3 separate regions of the Homo sapiens genome follow, and regions 1 and 3 are each linked to region 2. Evidence: fine-mapped QTL for protein levels in blood plasma. Region 2 holds a variant in brackets. A gene starts in each other region. All regions are shown on their forward strands. Region 1 holds the start of SELP (selectin P). Region 2 overlaps PLCG2 (phospholipase C gamma 2). Region 3 holds the start of CPXM1 (carboxypeptidase X, M14 family member 1).

What was found. PIP is the posterior inclusion probability: the model's chance that the variant is causal. Protein levels are from antibody-based Olink assays in UK Biobank. Linkage for the fine-mapping came from a reference panel and not from the study's own genotypes, which makes the PIPs less certain.
Region 1: it holds the start of SELP, and the variant in region 2 is fine-mapped to the plasma level of the SELP protein (UK Biobank, PIP 0.98).
Region 3: CPXM1 starts here. The variant in region 2 is fine-mapped to the plasma level of the CPXM1 protein (UK Biobank, PIP 0.92).

Annotation. Positions count from the first base shown.
Region 1 is chr1:169,626,713-169,633,226 of GRCh38, forward strand. SELP (selectin P) reads right to left here and starts at 3,412. Exons shown (of 17, transcript NM_003005.4): 1 at 3,360-3,412. The coding sequence starts at 3,362.
Region 2 is chr16:81,834,762-81,841,275 of GRCh38, forward strand. The region is part of intron 2 of PLCG2 (phospholipase C gamma 2); the gene reads left to right. Among named protein-coding and RNA genes, the nearest start is that of PLCG2, 59 kb to the left of the region's middle. RefSeq lists an enhancer at 2,222-2,411. The variant C/T (reference allele first, on the strand shown) is at 2,603.
Region 3 is chr20:2,797,679-2,804,192 of GRCh38, forward strand. It overlaps CPXM1 (carboxypeptidase X, M14 family member 1), which reads right to left and starts at 2,949. Exons shown (of 14, transcript NM_019609.5): 1 at 2,723-2,949; 2 at 1,048-1,215; 3 at 750-859; 4 at 474-613; 5 at 290-380. The coding sequence starts at 2,894. RefSeq lists enhancers at 531-1,518, 1,519-2,506, 2,507-3,492.

The DNA.
Region 1 (6,514 bases), not on the chromosome of region 2:
GGGACAGGGTCTTGCTCTGTTGCCCAGGCTGAAGTGCAGTGGCATGATCTGGGTTCACTGAAACCTCCACCTCCTGGCCTCAAGTGATCTTCCCATCTCAGCCTCCTGAGTAACTGGGACTACAGGCATGCATCACCACACCCGGCTAATTTTTTGTAGAGATAAGTTCTCACTATATTGCCCAGGCTGGCCTGGAGCCCCTGGGCTCAAGCAATACTTTTTCTTTGGCCTCCAAAAATGCTGATATTATAGGGGTGAGAGTAGTGCGATACTTTTTTTTTTTTAAATGAGTTACAATCAGGGAGATTGCACTGCAAAAGAAGAGGCTATTGCAATGGTCCCAGTGAGAGTTAAAGAGGGACAGGTTTGGTCTGGCATCAGTGGGAATGCAAATAGGGGAGGTGAATATGAGAGTTGTTGAGGATGCAGAACTATACAACTTGTTGGTAGCAAAGCCCAGATGTTACAAGCTATTACAGCTAATACATTAGTTCCCTTATGTTTCTGGACGGTGGTGGTGTTAGTGGTGTGGCACAGATATTGGTAGCCCAGCTTAGGGGTGGAAAAAGAAATACAGTGAGAAAAGAGGTTGTCTCTAAGCCAAAGAGCAAATTATGAATATAGACAAGAAGGGACCCAGGACATCAACACTTAGAATCCAAGCATATATTTAATTTAGACTACCAATTGCCATTATTTTGAGTAAAATATTAGCATTAAAAATAAAGTACGACACTTAAAATTTTTTAAAAAGTCTATTGGATCAGAGATGAGTTATATCTCTACAAATAGTGAGGATTTGCTCTGTATTTGACTTCATGAAGTTTCTGATTTACTTTTTAATCAAAAAGATTAGACACCTTGAAGACAATATAATGAATGTCATTTATAAAACCACTGTGTGCCTACTCTCTAGGTTTAGGTCCAGGGTTTTTTCTAAACACAGTTTTTTATGTAGTAAGTCATTTTGATTTTTGAGGATTTGATCAATAAGCTTCTACTTAAAGATCTCTGAAGATGCACATTCTAAGAGCTGGTGGCTAGCCCAGGAGAGTCTGAACTATTTTAGTTGCATTTTGAAAAACAGGTAATGAAAAGAAGAGTAAGGACTGGAAGCCACATAAGGTGGTTAAAAGGTATAAATGGACGAAAATCCAGACCTGCTCCTTAGCCCACTAAAACTTTTTTTTTGTTTTGTTTTTGAGACAAGTCTTGCTCTGTCACCCAGGCTGGAGTTCAGTGGTGTGATCTCAACTCACTGCCACCTCCACCTCCTGGGTTCAAGAGTTTGTCCTGCCTCAGCCTCCTGAGTAGCTGGGATTACAGGCACATGCCAACATGCCCAGCCAGTTTTTGTAAGTTTAGTAAATATGGTGTTTCACCATGTTGGCCAGGCTGCTCTTGAACTCTCGACTTCAAGTGATCTATGCGCCTCGGCCTCCCAAAGTGCTGGGATTACAGGCATGAGCCACTGAGCCCGGCCATAGCCCGCTAAAACTTTGACAAACATCAGTGCAATTTAACTATAAGTTCCCAATCAAGAGCTACTCCTCTGAGATCTATCTGATTGAAAATACCCCACCAGAAAAACCTTATCCTCATTTTCTCAGGTCCTAAAAGTTAATTAAAGCCACTCTCTGAACTTGAAGCAAAATTTACACAGGCAGTTTGAGGTTTCTGAATCTTTGGGGCCAAATGTGCTCAGAGGAAAAGGAAGAGGTCTTGTCTTTGAAATATTAAAAACCATTCCAGGGCTGGGGCCTTAGCACTTCGCTGTAGAGCTCAAGCCTAATTTCAGGGTACCAAGAGAGGGGCTTCTGAACATAAAGCCCAGGAGGCAATCGAGAAGGGTTCTTACCCTGGGATCCACATGGAGGTCTGGGAACCTCCTGTGGTTGTCTCTAAAGGTTGGTGTTTATGTCGATGTTTTTGCTTTCATCTGGGAAAGACAAGTTGTAACTTTCATCAAAATCTCAAAGAACTCTCTGATCCAATAAGTTCATACCTTTGAAATAGAGGAGGATGCCAAGGAGAGTAGAAGGAAGAGAGGAATAACTGCTCATTTAAGTTAACCAATTCAGAAGTATGACATGCAAAAAGACAGGACAAAAGTAATTCATATCCTTAGGTCATTGTGGTTCAAACTTAAGACAGGCTCAAACTCCTTCCTCTTCTCTTTATCATACTCTTATTCCTGTTTTCCCCAACACAGAAACCCACATTATAAGTACTTGAAAAGTGTGCTATAGTAAAGCAAAGCAGTAGGATGAATCAGGTGTATGCGGTACTTTTTTCTGGAGTCCCACAGAAAGGTGCTCAAAAACAGAGACCTGCCTGGTTCCTCCATAGCCACAGACTGCAGGATTTCGGACCCTGGGACTATGTGGGATACTCTTGGAAAGTCTGAGGAAAATTGGAAGTAGCTTAACCATGTGCATTTTATCTAGGTGCATATAACATTGCTGAGTTCAAAATGCCTAGCTATCCTTGGATCTTCCCTGAATTAGAAGTAGCCTAACCACGTGCATCTTATCCATGAGCATATAACATTGCTGAGTTCAAAATGCCTAGCTATCCTTGGATCTTCCCTGAATCCTAAACCCCACTATTCCTAAGAATTTTCTTTTTATTGTAACAATAATGGCTAACATTTACTAATCACTTACTATGTGTCAGGCTCAGATCTGGATGCTTTTCAGCAAAATCTTATTTAATCCTCATGATGAAACTATAGAGTATTATTACTATATCCATTTTATAGAAGAAGAAACTGAGTCATTAACAAGATTGAGTCTTAGGGCAGAAAAGGAAACTATGTGGATATTCCAGATCAGTCCCAGAAGATTCATAGGCTCACAGAAAGAAATGGGAGGGATGGGGATGAGAAACTATTCAATTGTAAGCTTGTCCCAGGGCACCTACCCAGTCTTCCATTTATTCCATCATTTATCCCAGAGAGAAGTACAGTCTTGGAAAATGGGGTGACAGGTTTACCATGATCTATTCTCAGAGAGCCCCTATAAATTCTAGTAGGAGGAACAGCAGCTGCGGAGCCAGAGGACAGGCCCCAGATCCCAACATCATGTAGCCTAACAGTGAAGCTTAGATAAAACACAGCCTCTGTAAACCACGATGGCTTTATTTGTAAAATAGAAATAGCAACCTCAACTCACAAGGGTGTTGGGAGGGTCAAAGTGGACAGCAAGTTTAAAAGTACTCACAAAATCTAATAGGCAATTCAACATAAAACTCCATGGCTATCGCTGTTCCTCACTTTCTGAACCTTTACCTGCCTGACTTTACTCCATACCACTCCAACTCACTTCAACCACTTCCCATGCAGAAAAAAATAAACTCACCATCTCCTCTGTGACTCTGCTGGTTTTCTGCCTTCTGCCCAACCCAGACTGCTTACAGTCTCACTGCCTCCCCTCAGTGTCAGGCTGTTTAGAAAAACAACTTCCTATTCACATTCCAGAAACTCACCACAGCCCTTCCCATGAAGTTAGAATGTTGATAATGCAAGAGTAATGTTGGCAGCTTAGAAATAGTGGTTGCCAAGAGGCAAGGGGTCACCCCCTTCCATGGAAGATGGTCTGGAGGCAGGCGCAAGGTGAATTACTCCTGGATATCCCAGGCTGAGCAATGTGGGAACAGTACACACACAAAGGTTTCCTTGGATTATGATATAAGCTCCAATTTAAAGTAGTACATTTGGAAAACATGCTTTGAATTAATTACAATGTGATTTTCCAGTGCCCATTTTCCAGTAATTATGACATGTCAGTGAATGTTTACTATTCCGGCAGCCTTCTGAGGGAAAGAAGCAAAATTAGTAGCACAAAAAAAAATAGAGAGAAATGGAAAAAGCCACTAACAGTTTTCTGGCGCTTGGGAAATTTTATTGGTAAGTTTCAAAATGACGTATTAAATAGACATAGGTCATGTGAAAGGAATTCTGCTTCTTATATCAGAAATAAAAAGGTATACAAATAGATACCTTTTTATTTTCCTCTTCCCATGGGATGTGTAGGACCAAAAAGCTGTTGGCATAGTGGTTAAGACTTCAGCTGTGCTGTTAAACTGCCCGAGACCCATCCTGGCTCCTCTTCTGGCTATCTACTGGGCAAACTACTTAAGCTCTCTATGCCTCTGTTTCCTCAACTGTAAAACAGAATAACAGAACTTGCCTCACCGGGTTGTTGTAGGATGAAATGAGTTAATATGTACAGAGTGATTGAAATGACACTTGGCCCACAATTGATGCTCAACAAATGTTAGTGATTATTATTACTTTTCAGATTGATCTCAGACAGCAAAATCAAGTATCAAGTATTTAGTTTCAAGTCAGAAAGCCATAACTCCTATTTATACTCTTGGAATTCTATTGTACAGTAGTAGGTATTATTCTTCATTCACTTCATGATGGTTACAGCTTGTAAATAGGCATCTCATGGATAAATTTAAAATGGAATGAAGTAGAAACATTGGAAGAAAGTCTAAAGGTAAAGATGAATTAGGGTATATAAGGCTGCATTTGCACGTTGGAATTTGGGACCAAGAAGAAAAAATTAATTATATAGTAGAAGTAGAAAAGATGGTGAAGGAAATGCTGTTGAAGGAATGACTGTAGGGGAATAAGGGAAACTTAGAGAGAGGAAAAAATGAGGAACTTCTTGGCAGCATGATGCAGTTCAGAGTCCAGACCCTAGAGTCAGACTGCCTGGCTCCACCACCTACCAGCTGTGTTGGGCGTTACTAATCTCCCTATAACTCAGTTTCCTCAGTGATGTGGTTTGGCTGTGTCCCCACCCAAATCTCATCTGGAATTGTAGCTCCCATAATTCCCACAGGTTGTGGGAGGCACCTGGTAGATCATTGAATCATGGGGGTGGTTTCCCCCATACTGTTCTCATGGTAGTGAATAAGTCGCATGAGAGCTGATGGTTTTATAAGGGGAAACCCCTTTTGTTTGGTTCTCATTTCTCTCTCTTCCCTGCTGCCATGTAAGACGTGTCTTTTGCTTTCTACCATGATTGTGAGGACTCCCCATCCACGTGGAACTGTGAGTCCATTAAACCTTTTTTTTTTTAATAAGTTATCCAGTCTCGGGTATGTCTCTATCAGCATCATGAGAACAGAATAATACACTCAGCAATGTGAATAATAAGGATAATAATCACCAAATACATAGACATGTAAGGACCATTAAATGAATTTAATGTGTTTGGAACAATACCTATCACGCTGTTAAGTGTAAGTTTAAGTGTTGGCTATTATTCTATAAGACTTGCCTCCATGTCTTTCTGTTCTTACTTTCACTCACCAGCCCCTCTTTTTGGCATTGCCTCATGTTAGAAAAAATATATATAGTCTCAGATGGGGATGAGGAAGTGTGGTATGTAGACTAGTAGGTTCTTTTTTTGAGACAGGGTCTCACTCTGCGGCCCAGGCTGGAGTGCAGTGGCATGATTACTGCTTGCTCCAGCCTTGACCTCCTGGGCTCAAGCAATTCTCCCACCTCAGCCTCCTGAGTAGCTGGGACTATAGATGTGTGCCATCACTACTGGCTAATTAAAAAAAAAAATCTCTAGAGATAGGGTCTCTCTATATTTCCCAGGCTGGTCTTGAATTCCTGGGCTCAAGTGATCCTTTCACCTCAGCCTCCCAAAATGTTGGGATTACAGGCATGAGCCACCATGCCCAGCCTGGTAGTTTCTTATTTATAATAAGTTTGATATTAATAAGTTCAATTGATCATATGTTTTTAAGTTTGATATTGTTAAATTTTAGTGAATATAAGGAAAGCATAAAAAGATTCCTATGCAGGTGACATTAGCAAGATGGTGGAGTAGGAGATGTCAGCCTTATGCCCCAACAAAAAAACAAACATAGACAGTTATACACAAACCAAAATAGCCCTCACAAGGGTGGGGAGTTGGGGGATGGGGCTCAAGAGCCTGTTAAAGAATTTGGAACAACACAATGGAGAAAAGAAAGAATATCCATGTAGAAGAATCACCGGTGAGACTGGCATATATGAGACACCAGGAGATAGCTACGAATAAAGAAATTTGTAGGCTATCTGTGTCAGTCATGTGACACAGAGCCACTGAGGCCCCCAGTGTCCTGCTCCACAGAGGACACTGGCATCTTTTATCCAACAGCCATTCCCATAGCAGGATGCTAAAAAGGGAAACACAGTTGCACTACCCCTCACACCCCCTCACCAAGAAGCAGCTATTGTTGCACTGCCCCAGGACTGGGGCCAGGGTTACCACCTCTCACAAGTCTATGTGTGTTCCTGATCCCCAAAAGTTGTGGCTGCTCTACAGATATTCACACTCTGGACTGTGGCTCTGTGGCTGCAGTGCACCTCCTCATGTCTCAGACACTGGAGTCACTGCTGTTGTGAACTAGATCTCACCCTGGGACCCCAAGCCAAGTTCTCTCTGTGAAAGTCTTTGCTCCAGACACTAGTTCAGCCACTGTAGAAAGGTAACCCATATTCTCA
Region 2 (6,514 bases):
GACGAGGACAATCTCCTTTAACAAAACCTCCTGCCAGTCCCCAGAGCTTCTTGGCCATGAGCTGAGGAGTTTTTATTTGTTCCTTTGGTCTTTTATGGCTAACTCTGGATTCCTCTTGGGTGGATGGGGAGGCAGCCTTGGTCCATTGTAGAACTGGGTACTACTGCAAAAGTGCCAAGTCCTTGCTGTAATCTGCTCTCTGGAGAACAGACCCTGTGGGCAGGGGAAAGGCCCATTGCCCACCTCCTGGTGTCATGAACACTGTTTTTCTCAGTGGGAGGAGGTGGAGGTACCCAAAGAGGAGGAAGTGGCCTTCCAGGTGCCACTTACTTGGTTTGGTGTCAGCTCTGTTATTGATTCACTGTGTGACCTTGGACAAGCTCCTTGTCTGCTTTGAGCCTTAGAATTTTATGTCTGCAAAATGGGTATAATAATGACTCCTCTGTCGTAGGGTGGCTGGCACGAAATGGGATAATTTAGGTGAAGCAGTTAATATACTACCTTACGTACAGCTAACACTTAGTAAGTAGCTGTTATAATAATAATGAAGATGGCCGGGTGTGGTGGCTCACACCTGTAATCCCAGCACTTTGGGAGGCCAAAGCGGGCAGATCACCTGAGGTCAGGAGTTTGAAAGCAGCCTGGCCAACATGGCGAAACCCCATCTCTACCAAAAATACAAAAATTCGCCGGGTGTGGTGACACTACTTGGGAGGCTGAGGTATGAGAATCGCTTAAACCTGGGAGGTGGAGGTTGCTGTGAGCTGAGATTGTGCCATTGCTCTCTAGCCTGGGCGACAGAGCAAGACTCGGTCTCAAATATAATAATAATAATAATCATAATAATAATGATAATAATTGAAGATAATAGGAAAACCATGTTATTACCTATATTAGTGTCCTGTGGTTGCCATAACACAAGTGCCACAAAATGAGGGACTTAAAACAGAAATGTACTTATTCCCTTGCAGTGTGGAGCTTAGAAGTCTGAAATCAAGGTGTTGGTAGGGCAGTGCTCCCGCTGGAGGCTCTAGGGGAGGATCCTTCCTCTCCTCTTCCTGGCCTCTGGTAGCTGCTGGTGACCCTGGGTGTCCCTTGGCTGGTGGATATTGGCACTCCCATCTCTCCCTCTGAGTGTGTCTCTGTCCAAATTTCCCTCTTACAAGGACAGTAGTCTTGGGTTAGGACCCACCCTAATCCAGCATGAGCTCATCTTGACTACATCTGCAAAGACCCTATTTCCAAAGAAGGCCACATTCACACATACCAGGGACTGGACTTCTATGTATGTTTTTGGGGGATGCAGTTCAACCCCCAACATTACCCGTTTATACTTTCTTTCCAGGGCCACCAAGGACAAGACCAGAGTCATTTTCATCCTGAATTGGTGTCAACTAGTGTTTTCATACCCTAGAGACTATCCAAATGACACAGCTGACCCAATCCCTGCATTTCTCAGAGGGGGAAACTGAGGCCCAGGGAGGTAAAATGACTCTCCCAAGGTCACACAGTAAGGTAGTGGCAGTGGGACTGGATCGTGGATCTCCTGGTGCCCTGTATTGGCCCACGTGTCAGCCATGGACTCGTATTCCCACTGGTGGAGCCAAGAGGTTTTTGCTGTCTGCAGGGGAGAGCACTTTGGATCTTGGCTTCTCGTTTCATCCTTCCCTTGGTAGTGGTTAAGAGTGCAAGCTTTGGGCCGGGCAAGGTGACTCATGCCTGTAATTCCAGCACTTTGGGAGGGTGAGGTGGGTGGATCACCTGAGGTGAGGAGTTTGAGACCAGCCTGGTTAACATGGTGAAACGCCATCTCCAACAAAAATACAAAAGTTAGCCGGGCATGATGGCACACTCCTTTGGTCCCAGCTCCTTAGGAGACTGAGGCAGGAGAATCGCTTGAACTCAGGAGGCTGAGGTGCAGTGAGCTGAGATTGTGCCACTGCACTCCAACCTCAGCAACAGAGCAACACTATGTCTCAAAAACGAGTGCAAACTTTGGAGCCTGGCCATTCAGGTTCAAGTTCTGGCTCAACCATTGTGACCTTGAATGAGTCAGTGACTCTCTCTGCTTCAGCCTCCCCACCTGTGGAAGGAAGACAGTCATCTCAGCCTTACATGAGTGCACAGGTGTCAGGACCCCTGCTGTGCACACGGGCATGTACTCAGTGTTTCTGTGCATGTGGTTTCCCTTCCCTTTCCTCCTGTTTGGTTTTCTCTGAAGCCGAAAGGTCCTTAGTAGGAAGTTGAGGACCAGCGTTCTCCATGGGAAGACTCAACATCAGTTACAACTCTAGAATTTATTCCAGGCCATCCAAGTTAAGGTAGTTGTCTGTATTTTGAGAACCTTTCTCTTGCTGTAAAAAGCAAACAAAAACAAAAAAAGACAAACTAGCAAACTCAAAGAACGAGAATACATATACATGCAGTGCTGCTTCAGATGGAAGTCAGAAAAGTGTGTGATCAAATGAAAGGCTGTTGTTGAAAGGGAAGTCTGCATTTACTCTTCTGCCAGTTCTCAGACTACCTCAACTCCTTGCTGACATTCCTAGGAATTGTGGTCCCAGCTGGCTTCTATAGCTGTGTGACCTTTGCCTTTTCCAAA[C/T]GAGTGGGCACCCTGCAGGCCACTTCCTCTGGGTTTCAGTGCCCAGCTTATCAGGAGGCTGCATGAACATCTATTTCTAGCTGGGCGGGAAATAGGACGGGTCCTGGCAGAAGGCGGAGCCCAGAGGTGGCTGGTAGAATCCCCTGGGAGGAGTAAGGGATGCTCTCCGCAGGGACCCCCGTGTCGTGGGTGCCATGGCAAAGCGTTAACAACAGGCAGTGCCTAGGGAGCCTGAACCAAGGTTGGGAGTGTGGTTTCCTTCTCAGTTCCCTTTCCGTCTTCCTGATTATGACAAGAACATCTGTTTGGTACCAACATGTGTTTTTTTTTTTTTTTTTTCTCCTTGATGCTGTGCATTTTTTTCCATTGGAATTTTTGTTGAGATAATTGAAGAATCACATAAAGATGTAAGAAATGATACAGAGAGATCTCATGTGAACGTTACCCAATTATCCCCAATGGTAATATCTTGCAAACCTGTAGTGCAGTATCACAGCCAGGATATTAACATTCACAACATTCATAGAACCCACTACCAGTCTTATTCAGATTTTCCCCCATTTTCCTTGTACTTGTGTGTATTTAGTTATGTACAATTTGGTCACATGCATAGCATCCTATATCTGCCATCATAGTCAAGAGACTAAAGCAATGTAATGATTTCTTACACCAATTCCATTTCCAAAATTTTAACATGTCTGTCTTTGAAAGATACTAATTTTCTTTTTTTTTTGAGGCGGAGTCTGGCTCTGTTGCCCAGGCTAGAGTGCACTGGCTTGATCTTGGCTCACTGCAACCTCTGCCTCCTGGGTTCAAGTGATTCTCTTGCCTCAACCTCCCAGCTTCCCAAGCACCTGGGACTGTAGGCACCTGCCACCATGCCTGGCTAATGTTTATATTTTTAGTAGAGATGGGGTTTCACCATGTTTCCCAGGCAGGTTTTGAGCTCCTGGCCTCATGTGATCTGCCTGCCTTGGCCTCCCAAAGTGCTGGGATTACAGGCATGAGCCGCCGTTGCCAGCCTGAAAGATATGAAATGTCTTTATTAAAATATAACTTGCAGACATAAAAAAGAATGAGTTCATGTCCTTTGCAGGGACATGGATGAAGCTGGAAGCCATCATTCTCAGCAAACTAACACAGGAACAGAAAACCAAACGCCGCATGTTCTCACTCATCAGTGGGAGTTGAACAATGAGAACACATGGACAGAGGGAGGGGAACATCACACACCAGGGCCTGTCAGGGGGTGGGGGCAAGGGGAGGGAGAGCGTTAGGACAAATACCTAATGCCTGCAGGGTTTAAAACCTAGATGATGGGTTGATAGGTGCAGCAAGCCACCATGGCACAGGTATGCCTATGTAACAAACCTGCACGTTCCGCACATGTATCCCAGAACTTAAAGTAAAATTAAATATATATATATATATATATATATATATATGTAAATAACATAGATGTGGTAAAATGCACACATGGTGCATGTAAGGCTCAAGGCTTTAAGCATGGGTCCACCTCTGTGGCCATTCCTCGGGTCCCGGTGACCCAGTCCTCTCTTTAGGTGACACCACTCTGACCCCATCAGTGAGTCTTGCATGGCTAATTGGCTTTGTGCCTCTCTTAAAGGCTTCTCATTTCCCTTTATGACTCACAGAACCAAGCCGAGGGTTTTGCTTCCAGCAGACAACTATTTCTAGGTAGAATTTAATCATATTGTCACGTTTCCACTGATTTTATTATTTTGCAGTTCCTATTGTATATGGTGAGTGTTACTGGTTTTCTTTTTGCCAAAAACATAAAATCACTCTTAACATACATCAGTTCAGGTGAAAACGGTGAGTTGATTTAAAGAAAACTATCACATAAATAGTATCAGCAGTAGGCAGATACAACAAACCTTATAAGGTTGATAAACAAATGTTTGCAGTTTGAGAAATAATGTCATATGGCTCCAAACCACCCCCCAAAACTGGTCAATCCATGTGTGAGGAAAAAAAAAAATCTCTATATAGTCTTTGTATAATGAGAGTTTTCTGTGTAATTTTGATACACAGTACTGGTTTAAAGAAAAGCAGAATTAGCCTATTAAAATATTAATAGGCTGTATATAAAGTAATGAGCCCTTCCTTTATTGCCTTAATAATTTTTGTTATATTTGCATACCATGAGTACTATTTTATATCTAATACTTATTTTAATATTGATTCACTATTTTTAAACTTAATTTTATATAGAAAAGAAACTTGATTTCATAGTTTAGAGGTGCCAGGTATGTATTTTTTCAATATATTTTAAAATATACTACAGTTAAGACATAACAAAGGGTGGGCACCATTTAAATTTAATTACCAGCAGGAGGGTGAAAAACACCAAGTTTAAATGGCACCAAAATGATGAACATTTAGGCTGGGCATGGTGGCTCATGCCTGTAATCCCAACACTTGGGGAAACCAAAATGGGAGGATCACTTGAGGCCAGGGATTTGAGACCAGCCTAGGCAACATAGTGAGACCTTGTCTCTACTAAAAAGAGAAAACTTAGGTAGGTGTGATGGTGCATGCCTGTAGTCCCAGTCACCTGGCTTTGGGAGGCTGAGGCAGGAGGGTCCCTTGAGCCTACGAGTTCAAGGATGCAGTGAGCTGTGATTGTGCCACTGCACTCCAGCCTGGGTGACAGGGCATGACCTTGTCTCCAAAAAAACTTAAAGAATTATTTGATGGCCCATGCTGGGGGTGTTAGTGGTGAGCACATAAAGCTCCTCATTTTCTCATTGTCTCCTGAGTTTGGAAATGATTGAGAAATGAAACATCGGCAATCAACGAAGGGCGATGAGATGGCTGCCTGGAGAGCATGCTTAGAATTGAGCCCTGACAGCTGGCCCCTGAGCTGCCCACCCTGTCATGGCCTGGGTGGATGCCCATAGGTGTCTCAGAGCAGCAGTCCCAGACTTTTTTGGCACCAGGGGCCGGTTTTGTGGAAGATAACTTTTCCATGGGCCAGATTGGCCTGGGGGGATAGTGTGAGGATGATTCAAGGGCATTACATTGATTGTGTACTTCATTTATATTATGATTACATTGTAATATATAATGAAATAATTATACAACTCACCGTAATATAGAATCAGTGGGAGACCTGAGCTTGTTTTCCTGCAACTAGACAGTTCTATCTGGGAGTGATGGGAGACAGTGACAGATCATCAGGCATTAGATTCTCATAAAGAGTGTACAACCTGGGTCCCTCACATGTGCAGTTCTCAATAAGGTTTGTGCTGCCATGAGAATCTAACGCCGCTGATGATCTGACAGGAGGTGGAGCTCAGGCAGTAATGTTCGCTAGACCCCTGCTCACCTCCTGCTGTGCGGCTCGATTCCTAACGGGCCACAGACAGGTGCCAGTTCATGGCCTGGGGATTGGGGACCCCTGTCTTGGAGGCAGCTCCCTTCCGAGTGGCAAGGAACAGGGCAGGGCACGTGGTCCCTTGGGGGTGGATCCAGCTAGAACAAGATGAAGAGGCTGAGTATCCTCAGTTCCTTTTTCCAGGGAGTGGTCCCTTCCTCCCTTGGGGATGGGGAGTCCCAGAGGGGAGAGAAGCACCAGTTTCCCCAGTATCACTTAAAACTCTTATCTATTGAATAGTTCTGCATGAATATGAAGCATTAGAATCACAGACCTAATTATTTGAGCATAATGATCTGGGAAGAATCTCTTCACATGGAAGCAGGACACTGATTTTCGCCTCTGCTGTCAGCGCAGTGGCAACAACTCTGTTGTTTATTATCTTTTTAACAAAGAAGATAAGGGCAGGCCCACCCCCTATCTGCAGGCCAAAAAGTAAACTTTATTTATTTATTTATTTATTTATTTATTTATTTATTTATTTATTTATTGAGATAGAGTCTCACTGAGTC
Region 3 (6,514 bases), not on the chromosome of region 2:
AAGTGATGTGGACCAGAGGCCCCGGGCCAGAAGGGGCACGCCAGGAGGAAGCTGTACCGTGAAGCAGCACCCACCCTGTGGTGGCATTATCTGGGGAGGATGTGGGCATGTCCCAAAGCAGCTGGCTCCCAATGGTGCCTGCCGTGTGCCACCCTCTTGACAACAAGCCACACCCCCCTGGGAAGCCTAAGCTGGCGTCTATTCCTTGTCCTCAGAGGAGCCTCAGCCTAGCCTGGACTGGGTGCCCAACTCCCAGCATGGAGGCCCCAGCCACAGTGGGACCACTCACTGCGTCCATCCCACTGCTGTGGTTCCTACTTCCCCACCAGGTCCGACTGTCATTGCTGAACTGGACCTTGTATGATGTGACCCAGTCATACCTGGCAGGAGAGGTGGAGAGAGATCATCGGTGCCCCCAGGACTCCCACCCCAGTCCTTCTGTGACCTCCTGACCTAGGGTTAGTCTGCCTCACCTCCAGACAGAGTTCCTGCCCTGTGTGATAACACCCGAGAAGCGGGTGGGGTGCCCAGCGTCCACCTGAAACCATGGATCGGCGTCCTGCTCCTCAGCACACCAGGCTCCATCATATAGATCGCCGTCCTCCAGGCCTGACTGCAGACACAGGACATGGTGGTCAGGCCCAGTTGGACAGAGTGGGGCAGGCCAGGACAGAGAGGAGGCAGGAGAGAAGCTCCCAGGGGCTGCCTTCCCTACCCTGAGACCATGGCTCCGAGCCAGGATTACTGACCTGAATGTTGAGCCGTCCTCGGTGTGGTCCAAGACCAAAGGACTGGCTGCTGGATGCCTCAAGCCGGCTATCTGAAACTCGCAGGGACTCCAGACCCAAAGGAGGACAGCCTGGGGCGGGGATAGAACAGTGAGACAGGACCAGAGGGAGGGTAGCCAGGGCAGGTGGGAAGCTGAGCCTAAGGTTGCTCCTGCGCTAGGCAAGCAAGGGGCGTGCCGGTGCCCATGAGGCCAAGAGCTGTGCTGGTAAAGTGCCCCAGGGGCTGCAAGTCTGGGCTGGGCCCCTGGAGAGGAAGTACCTGTTTCTTGTTTCTCAGCGGGGTCGAGGGTCCCTGCTGGAGTGGGGGTCACAAGGGGCCCGGCAGTCACCAGTGGGGTGGGGCGAGTTAGAGTTAGCTTCTTCCGCTTCTTCATAATGACCTTTTTCTTCTTGATGACTCGAATCCGGACATGCTGTTCTGAGGTCCCTTGGGGTCCGAGAGGCACAGCATGGGGGAAAGGAAGAATGGTGAAACCCCGGATGGAAAGGTCTGCCAGCCCAAGAAGACATGTGAGCCCACAGCAGGCCACACCACCAGGATCTAACAGCCTTCACAGGACATCAAAGGCCTGCAATCTGACCCCAACCTGCCTCTCCAGTCACTTCCTTGGCTCCTCCTTCTCCTCCCTGATGTAACTACATGCTTGGCCAGCCTCCCCTGTGAACCTCTAATCCAATGGAGAGCTGCACCCAGCCTCTAGAAACTGTTCGGTTGCTCCAAAGAGCTGAGTCTGGCACTTTACCTCCGGGCCTCTGCACTAGCTATCCCCTCCCCTGTAATGCTACCCCTCGCCTCTGATTTTTTCACCTAATTCCCATTCTTCCTTTGCATCTCAGCCCAGATGCCTTTCCAAGGAGGCTTTCTTAGCTCCAGACTCAGCATCATGCCCCAAAACCCCTGTGCCGCTTCCATTGTTGTGTCTGCTCTCTGGGCTCAGATGGCCTGTCCTGGAATCCATGTCTGCCTGGGTGTCGAGGCTTTCAGGGCTGGGCCTGCCCGCCGGCCCTTCAGCACAAGGCTCTGCCCAGGCAGGTGCTGGGGGTACCCATCGAAGCTCCACAGCTGCCTCCAGAACAGGCTGCCCATTTCCGCATCTGGTGCCCCTGTGCCTTTGCCCGCCGCTTCCTTCTTGGCAGCCCTCTCTCTCTCTCTCTCTCCAGACTCCCCTGACTCGGGGACATCACCCTTCAAGACCCTCCTCCACTTGCCTCCTCTAGAAGCCCCTGAGTGCCCTCCGCTTGCGCTCCTCCTCTCCTATTCCACATCTGGAAAGCTGGGAGGTCGGGCTGCCTTCCTCTCCCGCTCTGCCCCATCCTCCCGGCAGCCTCAGCGAGGGGCTCTCCCTTCTTTCCTTTTGTTCTTTCTCTCCAGCCCTCGCCTTCAAACTCTCTCCTACGCAGTCTTGCTCTGCACCTTGAGAGCTTCTGCCCCTCTGTCTCCCCTCCTGCCAGTTCTGGCCTGTTTTGTCTTTGGTGAAAAGGGAAGGTTTGGGGCTTGGAAGAGGCAGCATCCCACTGGCGCCTGTCCTGGGACTGCTGACTAGGTCTGGCAGGGAACTGGGGCTGCCGAGTCAGCAGCCATTGCTCCCAGCAGGGAGTTGAGGGAGTGTGAGTGTGTATATGTGTGTGTGCACTGTGAGTGTGAGTGTGCGCGCGCGTGCACTGTGTGTGCGCGCACGCGCGTGTGAGTGTGCGTGTGTGTGCATGCGTGTGAATGCGCGCGCGTGTGAGTGCAAGTGTGCGCGTGTGTGAATGTGTGTGAGTGCGCGCGCGTGTGTGCGCGTGAGTGCGAGTGTGCGTGCGGGGTGAGTGTGCATGACTGTGAGTGTGCGTGGGTGTGCGTGTGCCCGCGTGTTAGGGAGGGATCGCCCCACGGGGCAGGAGAGCCGGGCAGTCGGCTTGCGGGGGAGCGGACCGTCGGTCGGGGAACTCACCGTTAGCTGTCTCCGCCGGCGGCTGTGCCGGGCTGCTATGCAGGGCCGGGGTCGAGCCTGGGACCTTGGTGGTCCCGGGCTGCGCGAGGCCCAGCACCGAGTTCCTGGGCGCCCCCAGAGCCGGGCCGACGGCCGGCGCGAAGGCGGCCAGGGCGAGCAGGAGCCCCCACATGGCGGGGATTGAGTGCCAGGGGCGCGCGGGCTACGGCGGGTGGCGGGTCGGTCTCTTCCTGCCGAGTGCGCCGAGCCCCCCGCCCCTTCCTGCCCCCCGCCCCTCCGCAGCCTCCTGCCCGCCCACAGCCCGCTGCCCGCCTCGGACCTCGGAGAGGAGGAGAGGGCCGGGAGGAGCGAGCGGGGCTGACCTCCAAGGGGCCGCCCCAAGTCTCAGGACCGCCGACTCTGCCCTTCCTCTCCGCCGTCTGGGGCCAACCCGCCTCGTTGGCGCGCTGCGCCTTTATAGTCTGCAAAGCCACACTGAAGAGACCAGAGATCACCTGGTGGCCATCAAGTCGACCAACAGGAGGCAAAGCCCCTTATCTGAGCAATTCAGAATGACACTTCCCTATTGTCTAAAGCCACATCTGGTACCAAGCTTCCGTCCCAAGAATTTATAAGTAACTAGAATTTCTGTACGTTTCCGGAATGAGTGCACGTTAAGACCCATTGTGCAAACTTTGCTGACATCAAGGCACCAAAATATCGACAAATGTAACCATTTACCATGACCTAAGTGACTAATGTGGTCCAAATTACCCTGCAGTTCCCCGCAGGGAGCTCAGTCCTCTCTTGCTGAAGCGCCTACTGCGCTCTGCTGCCTCGTCCTTTCCGTCTAATAAAACTTTCCTTTTCAGACCTACACGGTTGTTGATAAGTTCTTTTACCACCCGGGAGCCAACCACTTCCCGGTTCCGGAGCTCTGACACCTCGCCTGGCATCTTGGTGGCCCATACGGGGACTTCACTGGGATTTCCCTCTTCCTTTTTCTCTCTGCTTCCTTCCACGGTCTGGTTCTTTACTCTTTGGGGAACTGCCGGTCCCGGTGGAGGCAGCTCTTCTGTGGGATCCTGAAGCCCTAGAGAAGGGATACCTGGCTGTCCTTGCCCTTAGGGGTGAGGGACTGGCCAGGGCTCTTTTCTGTTTTCGGACTGCCAGTGAACCAGCTTGAGTTCTCGTTGGCAACTGACAGTTTCTGGCCAAGCGCCATCCCCCGGTATTACCCCAAGGCCAAGACAAAAGAGCTATTGCCTGTCAGAGTGGCAGGGCACTTTCATTTTAACACTCCATAAGCCTTGTCCTGGAAGCGGTGGATCTCAATTCTACACAGGGATGCCTCAGGGATCTTGTAGTTCCTTGTCTAAACCCAACTTCGGTTCAATTAATTCAGTTCCATCCAACTCGCCCTTGGATTGCCTCCTTAAAAATGGTCCCATTGGTCTCATTTTGACCCACAAACTCTTAAAAATAAGCATATAAGGCTGAGCACAATGGCTTATGCCTGTAACCCCAGCACTTTGGGAGGCCAAGGCAGGCAGATCACCTGAGGTCCGGAGTTAAAGACCGGGAGTCTACTAAAAATGCAAAACTTGGCCGGGCACAGTGACTCACACCTGTAATCCTAGCACTTTGGGAGGCCGAGGCGAGTGGATCACCTGAGGTCAGGAGTTCGAGATCAGCCTGGCCAACATGGCGAAACCCTGTCTCTACTAAAAATACAAAAAAAAAAAAAAAATCAGCCAGGGGGCTAATTATATGTGGCGGGCACATATAATCCCAGCTACTAGGGAGGCTGAGGCAGGAGAATCACTTGTACCCCGGGGGCGGAGGTTGCAGTGGGCCAAGATGGCGCCACAGCACTCCAGCCTGGGCGACACAGCAAGACTCTGTCTCAAAAAATACAAATAAAAAATAAATAAGAGTTTAAAAAGCATATCCTTTTTTCTAATATTGCTTGGGTTCAATACAAGCTCCCTAATCAATCAATTTGGCCAATTAATGAAACTTGGGATTGCAATGCTACTTTACAACTTAACTGATTTTTTGCCGGAACCTTGGAAAGGATTCAGAAGTCCCATATGTTCAGGTCTTTTTTGCTTTATCCCCAAATCCAAACCCAAAATTACATACAAATTGTCATGTATGCTTCCAAGGAACGTCCTCCCTTCCCGGTTCTGATGTCTTAGATGATCCTTCCTTTTGCCTATTACATCCTCCTCAACCTGCTCACTCTTCACCTACACCCTCTCCATCTGCTCCATTCCCTAGTCAATCTCCCACCCACATACCCAAATACTTTCTCCCCTTCACATACTCTCAGGGGAGTCACATATGCTACTAGTACAGAGTCCTCAGAAAAATCCCCAAAATATTTTGCCTCTCCCTAAGGTGGCTAATGAAGATTTGGGAACAAGCCAAGTTCATGTCCCTTTTCTGATCATGTCTGATCTTTTGCAAATTCAATCCAAGTTGGGTTCATTTAGTCAGGATCCCTCTAAGTTCATTCAAGAATTTCAGACTTTAACTGTTGCCTTTGATTTAACCTGGCAAGATGTATTTGTGGTATTAACTACCTGCTGTTCCCACACACAAAAAATCACACGTGTGATCTTCAGCATGGGCAGATGAAGCTCATGCTCCCAGTCCTAATAACAGAGCTGGGCAGAAGCTGTCCCCAACATAGAACCTATTGGCAATACCAGGCCACCAATTCTGGCCCAAACAGAGGTAAGGGCAGACAGGATCATATGGTAACTTCTCTGTTGGAGGGAATGAAAAATATATAATAAAACCTGTTAATTTTTCTAAATTATAAGAAATAATAGCTGGGCGCGGTGGCTCACACCTGTAATCCCAGCACTTTGGGAGGCTGAGGCGAGCGGGTCACCTGAGGTTTGAGACCAGCCTAGCCAACACGGAGAAACCCCATCTCTACTAAAAATACAAAATGAGCTGGGCATGGTGGTGCATGCCTGTAATCCCAGTTACTCCAGAGGCTGAGGCAGGAGAATCGTTTGAACCTTGGAGGCGGAAGTTGTGGTGAGCTGAGATTGCGCCACTGCACTCCAGCCTGGGCAACAAGAGCGAAATTCCATCTCAAATAAAATAAAATAAAAAGAAATAATAATTTTGTATGTATGAAACTATCTGAAAGCCCTGCCCTTTTCCAAGCTAGACTGGTGGAGGCCATGCATAAATACACAAATTGAGACCCCAGGGGCCAGGTGTGGTTGCTCACACCTGTAATCCTAGTACTTTGGGAGACCAAGGCGAGGCGGGCGGATCACCTGAGGTCAGGAGTTGGAGACCAGCCTGGCCAACATGGTGAGAACCTGTCTCTACTAAAAACACAAAAATCTGTGGGCATGGAGGTGCATGCCGGTAATTCCTGCCTTTTAATGCTTATATCTTCCAGCTTACAATGATTCCACCTACAGATGACTATGCAATCCCAATACCAGCCTGCAACAGCAACTTCTATTTTCATGGGGCCTCTTGATGGAATCTGGTCTTCCCTCCATGAACAAGTTTATCATGACCCTTCATTCCCTTCATGACAGAAAGCAAGAAAGGAATCCTTTCAATGCCCCTTTTCAGCAGGAAGTAGCCAGATAGACTGGACACCCCTCTTCACTGTGCCATTTTCCCTTTCTTGGGATCCTAACAGACAAGTAGACATGAGCATGGAGAAATACAAAGGGTCAAAGATTTGCCCAAAATATTTATCAGGGGGAAAATGAGGAGAGCAAGGATCACCTGGTGGCCATCAAGCAGACCATCAGGAGGCAAAGCACCTTA